3 linked regions of the Homo sapiens genome follow. The protein of the gene in region 1 interacts with the protein of each later gene in a pairwise test. Each region holds a gene or a part of one and is shown in the gene's direction. Other genes may lie near its edges.

What was found.
Region 2: the proteins of SULT1B1 (region 1) and VBP1 interact in binary tests that used the Homo sapiens proteins (3 or more experiments, as listed by UniProt).
Region 3: the proteins of SULT1B1 (region 1) and TARS1 interact in binary tests that used the Homo sapiens proteins (3 or more experiments, as listed by UniProt).

What each region holds. Positions count from the first base shown.
Region 1 is NC_000004.12:69,722,597-69,729,737, reverse strand, and holds part of SULT1B1 (sulfotransferase 1B1), read left to right. Parts: intron 1-2,537; coding exon 2,538-2,650; 3' UTR 2,651-7,141. UniProt on the Homo sapiens protein: Sulfotransferase that utilizes 3'-phospho-5'-adenylyl sulfate (PAPS) as sulfonate donor to catalyze the sulfate conjugation of dopamine, small phenols such as 1-naphthol and p-nitrophenol and thyroid hormones, including 3,3'-diiodothyronine, triidothyronine (T3) and reverse triiodothyronine (rT3).
Region 2 is NC_000023.11:155,233,460-155,240,341, forward strand, and holds the end of VBP1 (prefoldin subunit 3), read left to right. Parts: intron 1-2,769; coding exon 2,770-2,908; intron 2,909-5,312; coding exon 5,313-5,383; 3' UTR 5,384-6,382; downstream 6,383-6,882. UniProt on the Homo sapiens protein: Binds specifically to cytosolic chaperonin (c-CPN) and transfers target proteins to it. Binds to nascent polypeptide chain and promotes folding in an environment in which there are many competing pathways for nonnative proteins.
Region 3 is NC_000005.10:33,450,965-33,457,964, forward strand, and holds part of TARS1 (threonine--tRNA ligase 1, cytoplasmic), read left to right. Parts: intron 1-1,376; coding exon of another isoform or gene 1,377-1,475; intron 1,476-2,324; coding exon 2,325-2,448; intron 2,449-3,980; coding exon 3,981-4,102; intron 4,103-4,622; coding exon 4,623-4,740; intron 4,741-5,037; coding exon 5,038-5,102; intron 5,103-5,184; coding exon 5,185-5,263; intron 5,264-6,292; coding exon 6,293-6,439; intron 6,440-7,000. UniProt on the Homo sapiens protein: Catalyzes the attachment of threonine to tRNA(Thr) in a two-step reaction: threonine is first activated by ATP to form Thr-AMP and then transferred to the acceptor end of tRNA(Thr).

The sequences.
Region 1 (7,141 bases):
GCTAGGAAGTGAGCATAGCCTTAGGAATGTATTATGCATATTAACAGATGAAACAAAACCGCCAATTTTGAGTAATATGATTAATTTTTTGAAAAGTTGTTTGTTAACTTATTAAGGTAGCAAATAGTCCTAGTGTTTTCAAATTGTGCTCTTTCTTTTCTAAAAACAATATATTTAACCTATTAAAAATAACTTCTAGAGTAAGAAAGCAGGTATATTTTTCATCAAAAATTGTATGCATTATAAGTTTGAGCAAAGAAGACTGATGTGTATATATCTTATCTGTATGCTTATACACAGATGTAAATGTATGTGTATGGACAGTCATCCCTTGCTATATGTGGGGGATTGGTTCCAGGAACTCTGCCTCTGAATATACTAGAACCTGCCTATATGAAAATTGGCACTCAAAACATGTGGGTGGGTTTCTCATCATGCAAATACTGTATTTTTTATTGCTTTTAGTTGGAAAAAAACTGCATATAAGTGAACCTGGCCAGCGCAAGTCTGTATTGTTCAAGGGTCAGTTGTGTACATGTACATATATATTCTTTTTCCTGGTAGAAGAATCAGAAAATAAATCTTTATTAAACAAGGCAAATTCTCATTGTGATAGATACGTGAATATAATTTCCCAGAAATTTTATCTCAAATCATATGAAAATTGATGCCATTTCATGACATCTAATTATGATGTAGACATAAAGAAGACAAGCTCAATATCTGGATTCTATGGCTTCTCCAACCTCAATAGAAAAAAAGCACTTGCTGTTCTAATATTGAAGGTAGTCTTTATATCCCCTCTCTAGGGGGTTAAGAACATACTTTTGTGGTCAGATTGATCTGAGGTTTATCCAGGCTACACCATTCCCTGAATACATTAATTAACCTGCCAAAGCTCTGATTACATCACTGGCAAAATAGATAATATAATAACACCTGTGGCAAAAGTTTCTGGGGAGGATTATGGTAAATTATATGTAAGCATTTAGGATATTTTCTCACAATAAATAATGCATACAGAAGTAAAAAGCATTATTAGTCTAAATAGTTTGACCTTCCTTCCTTCCTTCCATTCTTCCGTTCTTCCTTCCTTCCTTCCCTGATGTATCCAGTAAACATTTAGAGTACTCATTCGTTAATTTGCATATAGAAAAACTTCTTCATGAATAACTATATACAGCACATATTCTTTAAAAGATTCAAAGGTAAATGATACATATCTTTGACTCAAGAAGCTCACAATGTAGTGCAAGGGGCATGTACATGAATGAATGCTGAAAGAAGTTAAGTATGAACAAATGTGCCAGGCACACTGAATCTTGAAAGATGCCATATTAGATAAATCAATGTTATTATTATGAGGGTGGGATAGATTATGTCCAATGTTTGGTCGTATGTCCTAAATTATAACAAATAGAAAAACCTGGCCTTTGGCCAGCATTTATCAAAAGTTCTTTTTTGAAGTAAATGTGTTTGCGTATATTATAAAATTTATATGCAGATCAGATCACTGGAATGATTTATATATAACTTTTAATTGCTTAAATCTGTGTTCTCCTCTGTTTTTAATGACATCCTTACGGATGCATTAGCCCCAGTATGTTTATGTTGAACCCTTATTCAACCCTATGTTGAATTCCAGAGCTATTGACATCTGGTGAACATAGAACAAAATGTAACAACTAGGGAAAAAAGCATATCTATAGGAATGTTTTTCTTTTAAAAGACTTGGAAGTTTTATCAAACCACTGTGGATTAATATAGCTTGTAATTTAATATGATGTATTACTATTTCATAAAATAGTGAGATGTTTTTCTCTAAAAATATTGGCAGTACATTAAAAGTTTATTCATTTTCCAAACACATATTTATAAATACCCAAGTATGAGAGACTAAATTTAAATTTTTATCCTCAAAGATTTACTTTAAAAAACATGGTTCCAGGATGTTATATATTTGATATTAATGTTATTATTCCCACCTAAATTACAAATAAAGAACAAGCCTAGTGAATTTAGGAAAAACAACTGTCATCTCCATATCATAGCATCCTTGTTTATAAATTCTAGGAAATGATACTTATCAACTTTTTATTTCACAGTTTTGCTGTGCTGATGACTAATTTTTTGTCTAGTTTCCAAAAATTACTTTGTGAAATAAAATATGCCTGACTATTGATCCAAGTGCTCAGTGATAATCTCATGACCTACGACCATTAGAAACAGTAAAATTATCACTCTTGGGAAACTATTGTAAAGCCCAGGAATTTAAACAAGAAAATTAGTCTTTCTCAGAATGCCTCTTCAAATGTCAGACTCTATTTAATTATAAACCACCTTTCCAGATGTAAAAAATTATTCAAATTTTAAAAGCCTGAAAAATTTAAAGGTTAATACAATTTAAAGACTGTTTGAATTCATTCAAATAAAAGGAAGGTCTTTCTTTAGGCCTTCTAATCTTTTCCTTTGGTATATACTGATTTCTTCTTATGGAAATATTTTATTCTTTCCTATGTTTTTTTATTTACCTTTAGGGACGGCTGGTGACTGGAAGAATTACTTCACCGTGGCCCAAAATGAGAAATTTGATGCTATTTATGAGACAGAAATGTCCAAAACTGCACTTCAATTCCGCACAGAGATTTAAAGTGTCTAAATCACACATCTGAAGAAATAAGAGATTGTCTGTAGTTGATTGAAACGAGGGCAGTTATGAATTGATTTGGGCAATCAAATGAATTTATAAAGGAGAATAATATGCTTTTAATATGTTGATTCTTTTCAATGTTATTAATCAGATCCCAGTTTTGTTCCTTTGATTCTGAGTTTCCAAATTCTCTAAGGCTAAAGTTCATTGTTAACTTTTTGTAACAAAGGAACAATGTAACCACAGGCTCTTCCTGCCTTTTTCTACACTAGTACTGATAAGAAAGAAGGGATTTATTTTACTTAATCTCCCATATATTATGATTTAGAATTAAGTTCCCCTCCCTAGTACCATGGTCCAAGAAATGCTGTTTTCATAATGAGACTATATTTCCTAACTCTGCCCCAATTTCCCTTTGCCGAAAATTTGACCCAGGACACTGTGTTCCACTGCTGTCTACCGAGTTTCAAGTTGTTCTCTGAGTCATAGCTCATCTTCCTGCAGTGCCTCTATTTGGATAACAAAGTTCATGTCCCCGATCATGTAGTTCAGATTTTGGAAATCTTTTTTCTATATCATACCTAATGTCTAAGTCTCCGAAAGGCAAACGCCTACAATAGTCTCTGTAGGATTGGTTACCTGGGAACTGGAGCTCTGTTCTGAAAAGCAGCCCTGAGGGCTGTGACCTACTTCTTATGGGGAGTCCTCTTTTTCCCAACAGACCCGTTTGAACTTCAGAGAAATCACCTACTGCTGTGTTCTGGTCACCATTTGGGAACTTCAGTTACTTAATCTTATATTTGGATAGATTTGGATACCTTAATAGCACCTTTAATATCCTAGACATGATCATAACCTCTGCAAAATATTTCCCAATCTGGTGCCCAAGGAAGACTCTCTAGGCTGAATCTCCACTCTGCCCTCTTGACCCAATGTTCCTTCTACTTATTATTACATGCTTATATCTATTTGTGTGGTCTCTGATCTATGTTTTCTTGGAACATTTATATATATATATATATATATATATATATATATATATATATATATATATGTACATTTTATTATTATACTTTAAGTTCCAGGTTACATGTGCACAATGTGCAGGTTTGTTATATATGCATACATGTGCCATGTTGGTGTGCTGCATCCATTAACTCGTCATTTACATTAGGTATACCTCCTAATGCTATCCTTCCCCCCTCCCTCCACCCCACAACAGGCCCCAGTGTGTGATGTTACCTTTCCTGTGTCCAAGTGTTCTCATCGTTCAATTCCCACCAATGACTAAGAACATGAGGTGTTTGGTTTTTTTGTTCTTGCAATAGTTTGCTGAAAAGTATGGTTTCCAGCTTTATCCATGTCCCTACAAAGGACATGAACTCATCATTTTTTATGGCTGCACAGTATTCTATGGTGTATATGTGCCACATTTTCTTAATCCAGTCTATCATTGATGGACATTTGGGTTGGTTCCAAGTCTTTGCTATTGTGAATAGTGCCGCAATAAATATACGTGTGCATGTGTCTTTATAGCAGCATGATTTATAATCCTTTGGGTATATACCCAGTAATGGGATGGCTGGGTCAAATGGTATTTCTAGTTCTAGATCTCTGAGGAATTGCCACACTGTCTTCCACAATGGTTGAACTAGTTTACACTCCCACCAAAAGTGTAAAAGTGTTCCTATTTCTCCACATCCTTTCCAGCACCTGTTGTTTCCTGACTTTTTAATGATTGCCATTCTAACTGGTGTGAGATGGTATCTCATTGTGGTTTTGATTTGCATTTCCCTGATGGCCAGTGATGATGAGCATTTTTTCATGTGTCTGTTGGCTGCATAAATGTCTTCTTTTGAGAAGTATCTGTTCATATTCTTTGCACACTTGTTGATGGGGTTGTTTTTTTTTTCTTGTAAATTTGTTTGAGTTCTTTGTAGATTCTGGATATTAGCCCTTTGTCAGATGAGTAGATTGCAAAAATTTTCTCCCATTCTGTAGGTTGCCTGTTCACGCTGATGGTAGTTTCTTTTGCTGTGCAGAAGCTCTTTAGTTTAATTAGATCCCATTTGTCAATTTTGGCTTTTGTTGCCATTGCTTTTGGTGTTTTAGACATGAAGTCCTTGCCCATGCCTATGTCCTGAATGATATTGCCTAGGTTTTCTTCTAGGGTTTTTATGGTTTTAGGTCTTACATTTAAGTCTTTAATCCATCTTGAATTAATTTTTGTATAAGGTGTAAGGAAGGGATCCAGGTTCTGCTTTCTACATATGGCTAGCCAGTTTTCCCAGCACCATTTATTAAATAGGGAATCCTTTCCCCATTGCTTGTTTTCGTCAGGTTTGTCAAAGATCAGATAATTGTAGATGTGTAGTATTATTTCTGAGGGCTCTGTTCTGTTCCATTGGTCTATATCTCTGTTTTGGTCCAGTACCATGCTGTTTTGGTTACTGTAGCCTTGTAGTATAGTTTGAAGTCAGGTAGTATGATGCTTCCAGCTTTGCTCTTTTGGCTTAGGATTGACTTGGCAATGCGGGCTCTTTTTTGGTTTCTTATGAACTTTAAAGTAGTTTTTTCCAATTCTGTGAAGAAAGTCATTGGTAGCTTAATGGGGATGGCATTGAATCTATAAATGACCTTGGGCAGTATGGCCATTTTCATGATATTGATTCTTCCTATCCATGAGCATGGAATGTTCTTCTATTTGTTTGTATCCTCTTTTATTTCATTGAGCAGTGGTTTGTAGTTCTCCTTGAAGTGATCCTTCACATCCCTTGTAAGTTGGATTCCTAGGTATTTTATTCTCTTTGAAGCAATTGTGAATGGGAGTTCACTCCTGATTTGGCTCTCTGTCTGTTATTGGTGTATAAGAATGCTTGTGATTTTTGTACATTGATTTTGTATCCTGAGACTTTGCTGAAGTTGCTTATCAGCTTAAGGAGATTTTGGGCTGAGACAATGGGGTTTTCTACATATACAATCATGTCATCTGCAAACAGGGACAATTTGACTTCCTCTTCTCCTAATTGAATACCCTTTATTTCTTTCTCCTGCCTGATTGCCCTGGCCAGAACTTCCAACACTATGTTGAATAGGAGTGGTGAGAGACGGCATCCCTGTCTTGTGCCAGTTTTCAAAGGGAATGCTTCCAGGTTTTGCCCATGCAGTATGATATTGGCTGGTGGTTTGTCATAGAGGGCTCTCCTTATTTTGAGATACATTCCATCAATACCTAATTTATTGAGAGTTTTTAGCATGAAGGCTGTTGAATTTTGTCAAAGGCCTTTTCTGCATCTATTGAGATAATCATGTGGTTTTTGTCTTTGGTTCTGTTTATATGCTGGATTACATTTATTGATTTGCATATGTTGAACCAGCCTTGAATCCCAGGGATGAAGCCCACTTGATCATGGTGGATAAGCTTTTTGATGTGCTGCTGGATTCGGTTTGCCAGTATTTTATTGAGGATTTTTGCATCAATGTTCATCAGGGTTATTGGTCTAAAATTCTCTTTTTTTGTTGTGTCTCTGCCAGGCTTTGGTATCAGGATGATGCTGGCCTCATAAAATGAGTTAGGGAGGATTCCCTCCTTTTCTGTTCATTGGAATAGTTTCAGAAGGAATGGTACCAGCTCCTCCTTGGACCTCTGGTAGAATTCAGCTGTGAATCTATCTGGTCCTGGACTTCTTTTGGTTGGTAAGCTATTAATTATTGCCTCTATTTCAGAGCATGTTATTTTTCTATTCAGAGATTCAACTTCTTCCTGGTTTATTCTTGGGAGGGTGTATGTGTCGAGGAATTTATCCATTTCTTCTAGATTTTCTAGTTTATTTGCGTAGAGGTGTTTTTAGTATTCTCTGACGGTAGTTTGTATTTCTGTGGGATCATCGGTGGTGATATCCCCTTTATCTTTTTTTATTGCATCTATTTGATTCTTCTCTCTTTTCTTCTTTATTAGTCTTGCTGGTGGTCTATCAATTTTGTTGATCTTTTCGAAAAACCAGCTCCTGAATTCACTGATTTTTTGAAGGGGTTTTTGTGTCTTTGTCTCCTTCAGTTATGCTCTGATCTTAACTCCAGCTTGGCATTAGAAGTAGTTGTTTATATCCCCATGTGCAGCAAAGTCTTTTTCCTGAGATCATATCACATGTGCCAAGTTATATGCCAAGCCATGGTTCTCAAGCTGAAGGTACAGTACCCTGGGCCCTTACTTGTTCTGAAAGGGGTGGGGGTGGTGGTTTTGGACATACTGTTAGACTTTCTGAGCCACAACTGAGGTAGCTATGGCTTATCGTATTTTGACTTCACAGGTGAATCTCCGCTGTCAGCCAGGAATAGCCAGGAATAGCTAAAATAGCTCCTTAAGCTGTAACATTTCTCTTTTCCAACCCCAGCAAAGGATTGGTCTAGTGGTAACAACAAACCTCATAGAAGTAGTACACCTATTATTCTGGAGATACTTGCTTCTATAGATTTATTACAATATGTTTT
Region 2 (6,882 bases), on another chromosome or scaffold:
TTCTCTGCTCTTAAGGGCTCATATAACTAGATTAGGCCTACCTAGGCAGTCTGTATATTAAGGTCAGCTCTGACAAATGATGTAAATATCTCATCAGAGTCACAGATTCCAGAGATTAGAATGAGACAGCTGTTATGGGAGCCATAATTCTTGCCTACTATAGAAGTCAGTCACAAAAGAGCACATATACTGTGTCATTCTGTTTATGTAAAGTTGTAATACAGGCAAAACTATGCTGTAAGTCAGGTTAATGGTTACCTTTGCGGTGGGGGTGCTGGTGGTAACTGAAAATGTTCACAAGGAAGCTTTGGGGTGTTGGTGATAACCTGTCCTTGATCTGGATGCTGGTTCCATGAGTGTGTTAAGTTTGTGAAAATACATCAAGCTATATATTTATGATATGAATACTTTTCTATATGTATATAATATTAAATATAAACAAAAAAATCAGAAAACTGCATAAAGCAAAGTGTAAGTGAACGAATCTGTTGTCAGGGTTCAACCGGAGAAATAGAACCAGTAGGATATAGCTAACCTGCATAAACTTGTGTGCAAAGGTTCAGGTTAATATGTGTGTACCTCATGGTTTCATACTGTTACCTCCAATTCAAATTCAGGACAACAGAGTTTTCACTTTAGTTGTTCCTCTGTTTTTTTTTTTTTTTTTTTTTTTTTTTTTGAGACAGAGTCTTGTTCTGTCGCCCGGGCTGGAGCGCAGTGACGTGATCTTGGGTCACTGCAACTTCCGCCTCCTGGGTTCAAGTGATTCTCCTCCTTCAGCCTCCTGAGTAGCTGGGATTACAGGCACGTGCCACCACGCCCAGCTAATTTTTGTATTTTTAGTAGAGACGGGGTTTCGCCATGTTGGCTAGGCTGGCCTTGAACTCCTGACCTCAAGTGATCCACTCATCTCAGCCTGCCAAGTGCTGGGATTACAGGTGTGAGCCACCGCGCCTGGCCCCCCTGTTTCTTCTATATCAAGAATCCTGGTTTTCAGAAATACCAAGGGTGATAGAATTAAGCTAGACAACATTACTATTCACACGCAAAGCATTCTTAGAATAACACCACCCAACACTGTTACCACTGACATTTTTGCATATGTTCTTCCTGTCCTTACACATTCTTTATAAGGTTGTTCCCACATTGTTGGAGCACAGAGCCATTATATACTGTTTGCTCTCTCTCTTTCTCTCTCTCATCTTTCATTTATCCTAGTTCTTCGTGTAAATATTGAATGCACATCATAGTCTTTATGTTGATGTCCCCCCAGTCATCATCCAGTCATTTTGATTGTATGTTACTCATTCGTCTGATAAGTAGATTGCCTTAAGATTTATGGGAATGATATTCCCTGAGTTATCTCATGTTGCTGACAACTTGTCTGTGGCCTTTGTACTTGAAATTCAGTTTTGCTGGATATAATATCTTAAACTCACATTTTATTTCCTTGAGCATCTTATACAGTGCCCCATTTTCTTTTGTTGTAAAGCATCACTGTCAAAAAGTGTGAGGGCAAACTGATTTCTTTCTTCTATGAGTGATGTGTTCTTTTTGCCTGGATGCTCAAAGGACTTTTGGGTCAGTTTCCCCCAGGTATACAAAGTACCCTTTCATTTCATTTTGCGTGTCATTTCACCCAGTGTGTGTGTGTGTATGTGTGTGTGTGTGTGTGTGTGTGTGTGTAGTATGTGCATGTGTCACATTTCAGGAACATTTTGTTGAAATGAAGGATTTAGAAATTTTTTTGGTCCCCTGCTTTGGTTTTTTTTTCTTTGTGGATTCTTGTTATATTTATGTTCAGTCTTTGCTTATGTTGAATATTTTTGTCCTATCTGAATTTTAATACAGTTTTCTAATTATGGATTGGATTATTTGGTCAATAAGTATTTATTTGGCATTTACTTTGTGCCAAATACTTTCATGTTGTCTTGTTTAATCCTTACAACAATCCTTTGAGTAATTTTAAAATTGCATTTGTGAGATGAGGAAAGTGGTTTAGGAAATGCCAGTGGTAAGTCAGGTGATAGGGAGAGTTCAAAGCTGTAAAAGGTGTGGCTTCCCAATTCCAGGGTACATGCATCCCTGAATGTTGGCAGTAACACTAGATCTTCAGAATGACAGACACATTACCTTGTCTTAATCCCTAACATCTGTCAGAAGTAGTAGGAAGGGACAGGTAAAAGCTAGCTGTCTTTTTTACCTGGTCAAATATAGATGATAATAAATGTCTTTGAAAAATTTTAAATTAATATCATATCTCAAGCTCAGAATTTATTTAAATTGATACAAACAACACTATTTAGTTTCACGATGGAGGTAGTAGAAAGATAGGATTTTGTATCTAAACATACTGGTTTCTTATCCTGATTCTCCCATTTACCCACTAGCTATGCCAGCTAAGGAAACCTGAGCCTTCATTTCTTTAACTGTGAAGAAGACAACTTTGGCCTCAGCAGGGTTGAGGATTAAATGATACAATGTATGTAAATATATTCTTTAACCAAGGGGTCAGCAAACTTTCTGTAAAAGGTCAAATGGTAAATATTTTTGGTTTTGTAGATCACATGGTCTCTGTCTCAACCACTCAGTTTTGCCATTGTGGTATGAAAGCCTGAGTAGAGAATAGCTGGGCTCCAGTGAAACTTAACTTACAACAAAAGGCAGCAAGCTGGATTTGACCTGAGGGCTGTAGTTTGCCCACACTTTACTCTAACCTATAAAGCTCTGTGTAAATATTGAGTAATTGTCATGACTTTCTCTCTTCAGGCTAATGTAATGCTTGAATATGATATTGATGAAGCTCAGGCATTGTTGGAAAAGAATTTATCGACTGCCACAAAGAATCTTGATTCCCTGGAGGAAGACCTTGACTTTCTTCGAGATCAATTTACTACCACAGAAGTCAGTATCCTTTCTTAAAACAAAAAGCAAGGGAAAAAAGGAGAAAGATTTTTTTAAAAAAACATTCTTTCATGGGCAGAGGGAGAGCATTAGGAAAAATAGCTGATGCATGCTGGGCTTAATACCTAGGTGATGGGTTGATAGGTGCAGCAAACCACCATGGCACACGTTTACCTTTGTAACAAACCTGCACATCCTGCACATGTACCCTAGAACTAAAAAAAAATTAGAATACAAAAAACCTCCCACATTCTTTCTTACATTGCTTTAGTGGGAAGAATTTCCTTATTAGGCTAATATAAAGGTTATAGATTTTATAAGATAATAAATAAGATATTCGGAACTAGTACTTAAATAAGTTTGTAGATAGATTAGTGATTTTGAAATGTGATGTGGAAACAGCAAATTCACATAGGTGAGTAAGTATTTTTCTTCCAAATATTTTCCCAAGACAACTTTATAACTGGTTAAATAGTTTAATTTCACAAGCATTTAAGGGTCTCCTATGTTCCTGCAACTGTGCTAAGACATATGGGGCATGAAAATCAATTTTAGAAAAGAGTGGCAGTGCCTTTCTCTGGTAGAACTGTACATGTAAAACAGCTGAATGATAATTCATAGCAAACTATAAGTAAGTTAACATATGCAACACCAAGGCAATTTAAACTTTGGGAAAGATAGATGTAGGCTGGACTTAGTTCAAAGAAGGCTTTGTTGAGAAGATAAAAGTTAGGCTGCTTTTTTAAAGGCGGCGTAGGGTTTAAAGATCAGCAGAGAGAAGAGGTGGGAGTGGGGTATTCTGGTCAAGGGGGAAGGCAAGCTCTTTGCCTTTCTTCTCTGGCCTGTCTTTTCCTCCTACTTCCTGTCACAGTCACTCAAGACAAAATCACGGGAGTCACCTTTCACACTTCTCTCTTCCTCACTACCAATAATAAATCAGTCGCCAGATTCACATCAAATTTCCCTCATAAATCTCTCTGCCCATTACTGTTCTCGTTCTGGGGCTCCAAAACCTGCACTCAGAACCTTTTTAGGTTCCTCTCATTCCATCTGTCCTTCCCACTATCTCTAGTATGAATTTACTAGGTCACTCATTTTTATTCCTCTGGTTACAATATTTCAACGGTTCCTTGTTACTTACAAGATATACATATAGGCACTCTTGTGAAGTGCCCCCAGCTTGTCTCACCTCATGCCACTGACCTCTTCTTGCCTTTCCCCAGTGCATTCCAGGTTCCAGATAACCCCAGTCAGTTATTGTACACACTCCCCAATTGTGCCACACCCTTTGCATTTCTACACTTTGTTCCTCCTAACTGGAATGACTTTCCCATATTTACAGGATGTGCTCTTTTTTTACCCTTTTACCCTAAATATCTCAGTCCAAGCATCAGAGCTTTCCTGAACATTTTCTGATCCTCAGAGTGTTTCTTGTGTGCTTGCTTAACACATACTGCTTAGTTTTACCTTGCCAAACCGTGAGCTCTTCAGATGTAGGAGCTGCACTTTCTCTTCTTTTCCAGTGTGCAGCATGTGGCAGTTGTTTATGGTTGGCTGAGGGAAGGCAGGCCTGTTGGGGCCTAGTGCAGTGGTCATCATCATCTGACGGGTAGTGTGGAAACTTCATCCAGCTATGAGATGACGAGGGCCTAGGACGGGTGGCTTGTGGAAAGGAAAAGATATTAAACGTGTGAGAAAAAAACAGGATCCAGTGACTTAGATGGGTACAGGAGCCAAAAGTGAGGAAATCCTCTAAGATGAGTCCTACAAGCTTAGTTAAATGCCATTTGTTATTGCTAGTACTGCAAAAGGTAGGAAAGGAAGGTGTGCAGACAAGTGAGGGAGCTAGGGTGGACAGTCTCTGTTACATTGACATTCTACTGGAGTCTAAGCTCCACGAGGAAAAGAACTTCACCTGTCTTATTCAGGTCAGGGCTTTGTACAGTGCCTAGTCAAAAATACAGTAGATGCTTAATAAACTTGTTAAGCCAAAGGGAGGGTAAGAGATAAAATTATTGATAATTGTAATAATATAAATATTACATGGCAGGATATGGGTTGAGTGATCTTTCAGATTTCTTGGATGAGGGACTGTCTTTAAAACTATCGAGAGTGTCTAGTACATATTTGTTAAATATATCATAGTTGACTAGCTGACAGTTGACTAATACCATAGTAAACAATGGGTTAACAATTAATTTGAGTCCTTAGTTTTGATAGAGTTTAATTATAGTATTTTCCTAACAATTGACATTATAGCAGGATGTCTTACAATACTATTTGTTACCAGTATTTGTATATGTTTCATTTCTGTGTCTTTGATTCATTGTGTGAGTGGAGTGAATACTTAGTCATTGCATGCATTATCTTTAGAATTGCATTTGCATTTTCTTTGACAATTCTTGCAGATATGGCCAGGGTTTATAATTGGGATGTAAAAAGAAGAAACAAGGATGACTCTACCAAGAACAAAGCATAATGCTGGCAATTAAAAATGTGGTTTAGTTTTCCAAACATGTTATCTTAAATACCCCTTTATCCTTACAGGTTGACATAACTTTGAATGTTTTAACAGCAAGAATTTTAAGAAAAGATAAACACCATTTTATTTATTTATAAAAACAAAATTAGTTTCAAATATTTTTGACATTGTGATTTTTTTTTCCACATTTCTCAGCAAAGCTAATGGTATTTTAATCATTATTTTTGCCTGTCATAAGAAAACTCTTAGCTGAAATGGCCGAAAACTGTGAGACATGCTATGGAAGCTGAATGCCGGACGCTAGCACAGTTTACTTTTTCCCTTTCTAATTGGCTGATGTTACTCTCACTTGATGTGGTTAAACCATTTTAGAGGTAGAGAAGACAGACAGTTTGAATATTTGTAAACTTGTTTTTCTTTGGTATATTTAGGACTTAGTGGTCCTCTGTTGCTATTGTCTTCTATAAGTGGAGTTTCATGACTTACTGCTTAACGAATAACTAACTACTATGATATTCTGGACATTTTAGGAAATGGTAATTTGCCTTGCTACACATTAAGAGGGCTATTAAGACTACATTTTTTCTAACCTCAGATAAGTGCAGTGTCTTTGCAATGCCAACATAAGGGAGATCTTGGCCAACGTGAAATAAAATTACTCATTCAAAACTCTGCCTAAGGTGATTTTGTAGTTCTTAACAGTTCTCCAGAGCATCTTGAACAGGAATATTAAGATAAATGTGAATCTGCAATGGCTGAAAAGAGTTGTGAGCTTTTTTATTCATGATAAAACCTTATAGGAATAGTATAAAAAATCCCTGTGGAAAGCTACTAGTACATTGACCAGCGCTGGGTGATACAGATTCTGATAAAAACATAAATGTATTAGTTCATCTCCATGTAGTAAAAAGTATACTTATACAATGTTTTGTACTTGTATTTCATGAAATTAAAACAGTGATGCTAAAACTATGGCAGAGCACTTTTTTCATGTTACTCTTTGTCTTACTATGTTTGGGCTGCTATAACAGAATACCACAGAGTGGGGGGCTTATAAACAGCAGAAATTTATCTCTCCCAGTTCTGGAGGCTGGGAAGTCCAAGATCAAGGTGCTGGCAGATTTGGTGTCTGGTAAGGGCTGTGTCCTGGTTCGTAAACGGCACCTTTTCACTGTGCCCTCATGTGGCAGAAGGGGCAAGGAGCTCCCTTGGGCCTCTTTAATTTGGCACTAATCTCATCATGAGGGCTCTGCCCTTATGACCTACTCACCTCCCAAAAGCCCCACCTCCTAATACCATCACCTTGGGGGTTAAGATTTTAACATAACAATTTTGGGGTGACACAAAGATTCAGACAATAACACCTTTTTAAAGTTAACATGGGTCTTTTCACGTATTTGTAAAGTTTACTTGTACATATACTAGCATGTTCCAAGAACAACTTATATTTCTAGAAACACCATAAAATCCCTGTGGAAGGAATACAGATCTGCAAA
Region 3 (7,000 bases), on another chromosome or scaffold:
ATTAGCCAGTCATGGTGGCGCACACCTGTAGTCCCAACTACTTGGAGGCTGAGGTGGGAGGATAGCTTGAACTCGGGAGGTGGAGGTTGCAGTGAGCCAAGATTGAGCCACTGCACTCCAGCCTTGGTGACAGAGCGAGAGTCCGTCTCCAGGGAAAAAAATAAAAGGTTGAATTACATAAAACATTGATGGGCTTTAGCTCTGGAGTTAAGTCACTGATCTGCACTGAGAATACTTTATGAAATTTTTACAAAAGTCCAGAATAACTTTTTGTTCTGTGAAAAATTATAACATTGATAACAGGCTATTTAAAGATTCACATAATTAGTGGTGAATATGAAAGGGAAGGACAAAAAAGACATGTTCCATTTGCGTCAAAAGGTTTTTCTTTGAAGTTTTGTTATAAATCTTTTTTTTTTTTTTTTGAGACGGAGGAGTCTCGCTCTGTCGCCCAGGCTGGAGTGCATTGGCGCCATCTTGGCTCACTGCAAGCTCCGCTTCCTGGGTTGACGCCATTCTCCTGCCTCGGCCTCCTGAGTAGCTGGGATTACAGGCGCCCGCCACCACGCCTGCCTAATTTTTGTATTTTTAGTAGAGACGGGGTTTCACTGTGTTAGCCAGGATGGTCTTGATCTCCTGACCTCGTGATCCACCCGCCTCGGCCTCCCAAAGTGCTGGGATTACAGGCGTGAGCCACTGCGCCTGGCCGTTTTGTTACAAATCTTAAAGATTATTTTACCCTTCTTTGAAAAATTGAAATGATCCAGTATGGCCCATGTGTAATCTACATTTTCAGAGTAACTCTATTCTTAGAATCTTGGGGCTCCATATTGGATCATAAGATAAAAGTCATGTTCTTCCCAAAGAATATAGAGAATATGATTATCCTTTTTATCAGTTCTTTAATCTCCTGAAAACTGTTTTACACCAATATGATGAAATACATTTCTCTCTGCCAAATTCATGTTATGTTTTGTGAAATGCATGTATTTATTTTATTGACTCCATCTGATCTCAGGAGGAAAGAAAACATTGTTTATAACCTATGGTAAAGTTAGTAGGAGCATTGAAAATAGAAAGGAGTTTGTTGTTTACTTTCTGTTTGGTTCTTTTCTCTTGATCCTCAGATAGGAGTTGTATACATTTTGTTGTAAACCCTTAGACATAGAGAGCCACCAACACAGCAAGCCTGGCTAGCTTAAAGCCTTCTAGTGGTAGGTTTCTTTGAGATTTACAGTGTAAAGGGTGTATACTTTTTCTTCACAGTGTAGAATGTTGCCTACCTTCGTTGAGATGTCCAGGCTGTTATAGACTATTATTTCTCTAGCTGTGCATTTAGATGTATAATCTGGCTCACCTACTCAACTCTGCTCTAGTCACACAGCTTCCTGCAAAAACCTCTCTTCACTTGCATCTCTGCTTGCATCTGTGGCCATTCCCTCATCTGGAATGCCATGGCCTCCTCTTTTCTTCCTGTGAGTGCTTTATCCTCAAAGCCTTTCCAGATGACTCTGACCTGTACTGCTTTCCCTCCTCAGAACTCCTGTAGCTTTTACACTCTGTGTGCTCTGATATTTCATCACTTGATGATACTTTATGTTCGATGTTGTATATTGGGTGTGTAATGTTTTTACTCACATTATATGGAAAGTTTTATTAAATAGTCTTTCATTTTACCTCTATATTTGTTATAAATATTATCATAGGCATTTGCAGAATTTATTCTGAGGTTAGCATTGTCTGTCAAAGAAAGGATCTGGTGTACATTTTAAGCAGGAAGAGGAACAGAGAAGTTATTTAGTAGGCCTTTTTTTTTTCCTTTGGAGTCTACATAGCTTAGCTTTGTAGAAAGAGAAAGGTGGGTGTATTAAGAGAAAACTCGGTGTGGTGACTTGTGCCAGTTGTCCCAGCTACTCTAGAGGCTGATGTTGGAGGATTGCTTCAGGCCAGGAGGCCAGCCTGCGCAACATAGCAAGACCCTGTCGCTAAAAAATTAAAAAAAAAAAAACTTATTTGTTGGAGAAATTAAGATTATTCAAACCATTGGAAATTGATAGTGCTTATTTATCAGAGTTGCCATATCTGCTTAAACAGGAGGCATTCAATGTCAAATGATAATGTTCTGCATTTTCAGGATCTTCCAGTTAGGTTCTTAGGTACATTTTTGGAATTTGTTGTTTTTATCATTATATTTCAGAAAAATAGAGATACATCAATATAAAAAAACAATATATAATAAAAATAGTGTTTATTTTCCTGTTTTCAAATTAGATTCGTGTGTACTTATATATGTGTGGACTTTTTTTTTTTTTTTTTTTTTTAAGTCAAGGCCTGGCCGACAACACCGTTATTGCTAAAGTAAATAATGTTGTGTGGGACCTGGACCGCCCTCTGGAAGAAGATTGTACCTTGGAGCTTCTCAAGTTTGAGGATGAGGAAGCTCAGGCAGTAAGTTGCTGATTAGTATTCATTGAATTTTAGGATGCAGATTCACATTTGAAGTCTTTTCCAGCTCAGTCCTGCTGCGATTGGGTGGCTAACATTTATTGTTGTCTCACTGTCATATTTGAAATCTTCATTTTGTCCTTCATTTAGGGAACATAATAAAAGTGCTTGCCTTAGAAAATAAAGGGGTGAAGCTGAATAAGTCTTTTCATTACTAGACACTTCAATAGGGAAAATGTTTTGGGAATTGTATTAAACATTGATTAAGCAAGTAAAAATTGTTTTCTAAACTGTGAACACTATTTTATTTTAATTTTTTTTTTTTTTAATGATGGAGTCTTGCTTTGTCACTCAGACTGTAGTGCAGTGGTGCGCTCTTGCCTCAGTACAACCTCCACCTCCCAGGTTCAAGCTATTCTCCTGCCTCAGCCTCCCAAGTAGCTGGGATTATAGGAGCGCACTACCACACTTGGCTAATTTTTGTATTTTTAGTAGAGATGGGGTTTCACCATGTTGGCCAGGCTGGTCTTGAACTCCTGACCTCAAGTGATCTGCCCACCTCGGCCCCCCAAAGTGCTGGGATTATAGGTGTGAGCCACTGTGCCTGGCCTCTAAGCTATGAACACTCTAGCAAGATATGTACATTTGACAAATAAATTTGAACCTTACTTCAAAGCACTGCCTTTATTGGATAATTTCTGTATTTTTTTCTCATCTTAAGATGCAAATCTGCTGGATAACACTATAAAAGTCAACCTGCATGTGATGACAAGATTTTCTTTTTAATTCTCCATGGCTGTGTATCATATAAGGGGAGACAAAGTATTTTGTTTTAGTGATGATTGTTCACTTATGTATGTGGATTAGTGGTTTTCAAATGTATTTTGGAGCCCTCAAGTTTCTTACGAGAATTTTTTAATGTCACTTTGGTACCTTAATACTAAATCTTGAAAACATTGCTTTGGGTGTATTCTGACTCATCCCAGTGATTACTTTAAAACCAAGTACTGCCATTTGATTTCAGTGTACAGATGTTTGTCCTCGTGTTTTGTCATTGTGTTGTGGGGTCGGGTTGTACCACCTTTGTTTTGGGCCAGTAACAACATGTAATTTCTAAGTGATGTTCCATAGCCAGCTAAAGGCCAGATCACAGTGTCTGAGACATGGTGCTGTGGGCACATTGACTCAAAAGAACCTGGGCCATTGCAATCAATGAGTTAGTCACATTGTGAGTAGCAGTTGTTTTCAGAGAACAAAGTCTATGTCATTTAATTAGTGATGCCAAGTTTAGTTTAATTTGTTTGAAAACAGCTAAACCAGATGATTTCCAAAATAAAAATACACTAGTAATTGGAAGCCTTTTGAATTACTTTGGCTATGGATAGAAACAGTAGTTTATAGATTTAGAAATTTAGGATTTTATATATTGGGTTTACTTGTAGTAAATATTATCATCTGTCTCTTTCAGACAACCACATTAATTGGCAACTTGTATGCCAAGACTCAGACCATGCCATTTTTCTTTAAATTTTCAGGTGTATTGGCACTCTAGTGCTCACATAATGGGTGAAGCCATGGAAAGAGTCTATGGTGGATGTTTATGCTACGGTCCGCCAATAGAAAATGGATTCTATTATGACATGTACCTCGAAGAAGGGTAAGCCATCAACTAGATAAAGAAAACTGAAGTCAATGACTATGGATCCATAAGTTATTCTTAAGAGTTCTCAGTAAGGGAGGAATGATATAGATCTCACTGCTTCTTCATCAGGTATGCCCATTATCAGTACTTGAAGTGTTGCAATTTACCTGAAGTAATAGAGGATTTGATGAGACCTCTGTTCTAGATTGATGGAGGTAGAGTCCTAAGGTATTTTGGGAAATTCAGGGAGACTGGTCCTCCCCTCTCCTTTAAAACCTGGTGATAGAGTTGCGGGAAGGGGTCACTAGTGAGAAAGGTCTCCATGGATGACCAAGGTAGAAGCTACTGAAAATATAAAATGTAAAAATTACTTATGAAAAATGTTTTGTTTAGAATTCTAAGATACGATGCAATAGTCTAATTTTTTAATATTAAAACCCTTGAAGTATTCCAAATACTATTTCCAAATGAACATTTTTCGAAGCCATGGTGTGATTCGAATGGAATGAAAAGATTATACTTTCTTCTCCTTCAGGGGTGTGTCTAGCAATGATTTCTCTTCTCTGGAGGCTTTGTGTAAGAAAATCATTAAAGAAAAACAAGCTTTTGAAAGACTGGAAGTTAAGAAAGAAACTTTACTGGCAATGTTTAAGGTAAATTGAACCATAGTGCGTGGCCCCCACTGTTAATATCATTTATTCATGTTAGTTGAAGTGACACCACTGGCGTTCCGTGTACTAAGCTGAAGTCTAATTGGTTCTTTAGCAAAAATTAAGTGTTTTTATTATTTTTTTAATTTCATTTTTTTCCTAGCAAACCATTCCTTCAACATGTTTTTAAAACATGAAGTATCAACATTTATATTCATACAGTGCTACGTTTTAGCTATAGTACTTAGAAGTAAAAATTAAAGGACAGTTTTTTAAAATAATAATTTTTCCTGTTTTCAGTACAACAAGTTCAAATGCCGGATATTGAATGAAAAGGTGAATACTCCAACTACCACAGTCTATAGGTAAGAATATTAGATGTCATTAAATGTATCTGGTATGTATGTCATTTTGTCTTTGTTAAAATTCCTTTCATTTTATCTTTAGATGTGGCCCTTTGATAGATCTCTGCCGGGGTCCTCATGTTAGACACACGGGCAAAATTAAGGCTTTAAAAATACACAAAGTAAGTAATGTAACTTTAAAGACTGTGAATGTATCTGTCTAGAATAGATATATGTTTAAACTTTCACTGATTTCTCTTTACCATTTTCTGTTGCACATGAAAGGATGGTATTTTCTCATGCTCTCTATTAACTGGGAGCTGTATGCCATCAGGATTTTATAATTGAAATCCCTCAAGGGGTGACTGACTTGCTGTCATTGCCAGAGCAATCACAGGGGATGGAGATTTTACAAAATCATACAGCATGGGCCATCCTGGCTCTATAAAAGCTTTGAGACTCACTGGGAGTATGTGCTTTTGCCCTTTATATGTCTAAATTAATAATTTCCCAAGTTGTTGTTTTTAACAGAACCCAGTTTTATACTAGTTCATAAACATTTTATGGAGGTTTTTAAAATGCACTTTAAATCAAGAGAATAATTGAGTCATTTCAAGATTTTTTTTTTATTGGCTCATTTCTATTTTTGCTCATTTTGTGAGAAATGCCTTTGCAGGCAAAGTAATGTTTGTGGAATTGTGGTTGAGTATTGAGGGGTGGGCAGTTTTGGGGGTATTGGGGTGTAGAATGGGTCTCACTCTGTTGCCCCAAAAAGACAGAGTGGAGGACCACTTGAGCCTGGGAAATGAGGTTGCAGTGAATGGAGATCGTGCCACTGCACTCCAGGCTCAAGCAGTCCTCCTGCCTTAGCCTCCTGAGTAGCTGCGACCATAAGCGCACACCACCATGCCTGGGTAATTTTCTTTTTTTTAAATAAAGAATGGGGTCTCCCTGTGTTTCCCAGGCTGGTCTCGAACTCCCAGGCTCAAGCAATCCTCTTGCCTCGGCTTCACAGAGTGCTGGGATTACAGGCATGAGCCACTGCACCCACCTGCAGATTGAGGGAGGGGCATTTTTGAGGATAGAAAACAGCCAACTTTGTGCTGCAGAATGAGTAACTACTCTAACAAGGCCTCAAAGCAATTGGGAGTTAAAATAAGTGAGATGTTTACAAATTTGAATGTTGTTTCATGGTTAATCCTTGTTTTCAGAATTCCTCCACGTACTGGGAAGGCAAAGCAGATATGGAGACTCTCCAGAGAATTTATGGCATTTCATTCCCAGATCCTAAAATGTTGAAAGAGTGGGAGAAGTTCCAAGAGGAAGCTAAAAACCGAGATCATAGGAAAATTGGCAGGGTATGTTCAAGAACAATGATGTGTCTTGACTGAGTTTTCTTCAACTTCATTTGAAGTTTGAAATTCAGCTGCATGAAGTACTAGGAATTTTGTTTTGAAGAGATGTTGTGGCTTTTTAGTAACTGGTGCTATGTCCTGTACAAACTATAAACACTTACTGATTGTCCACATTATCTGCCTGGAGTATGCTCAGTACCGCACAAAAATGCATTTGAACTACTTTTATTGAGAGCAAACACTGATGATCTACGGTTTTCTGTAAAAGAAGTATAACAGCTTCTCATAGAGCTGGGAGAACTATGGAAACCCTCTAGTTTCACTGACTCATTTAAAATGTGGAAACAGAGTCCCACAAAGATTAACCTACTTGTTGCCCAAGGTTTAGCAGCATGTCGCACATGGATCCTGTGCTATCATTTCCTCTACCCATTATCTCTGTTACTGCTGAATGTCCTCTAAACTGGAAGTTAGGCTAGATAAAACATTCCCCCTTAAAATAGGCACTCTGTGCCAGGGGTCCTTGGCTATTAGGTTATGAAGCTTGAGCTGGAGGTAGCAGCC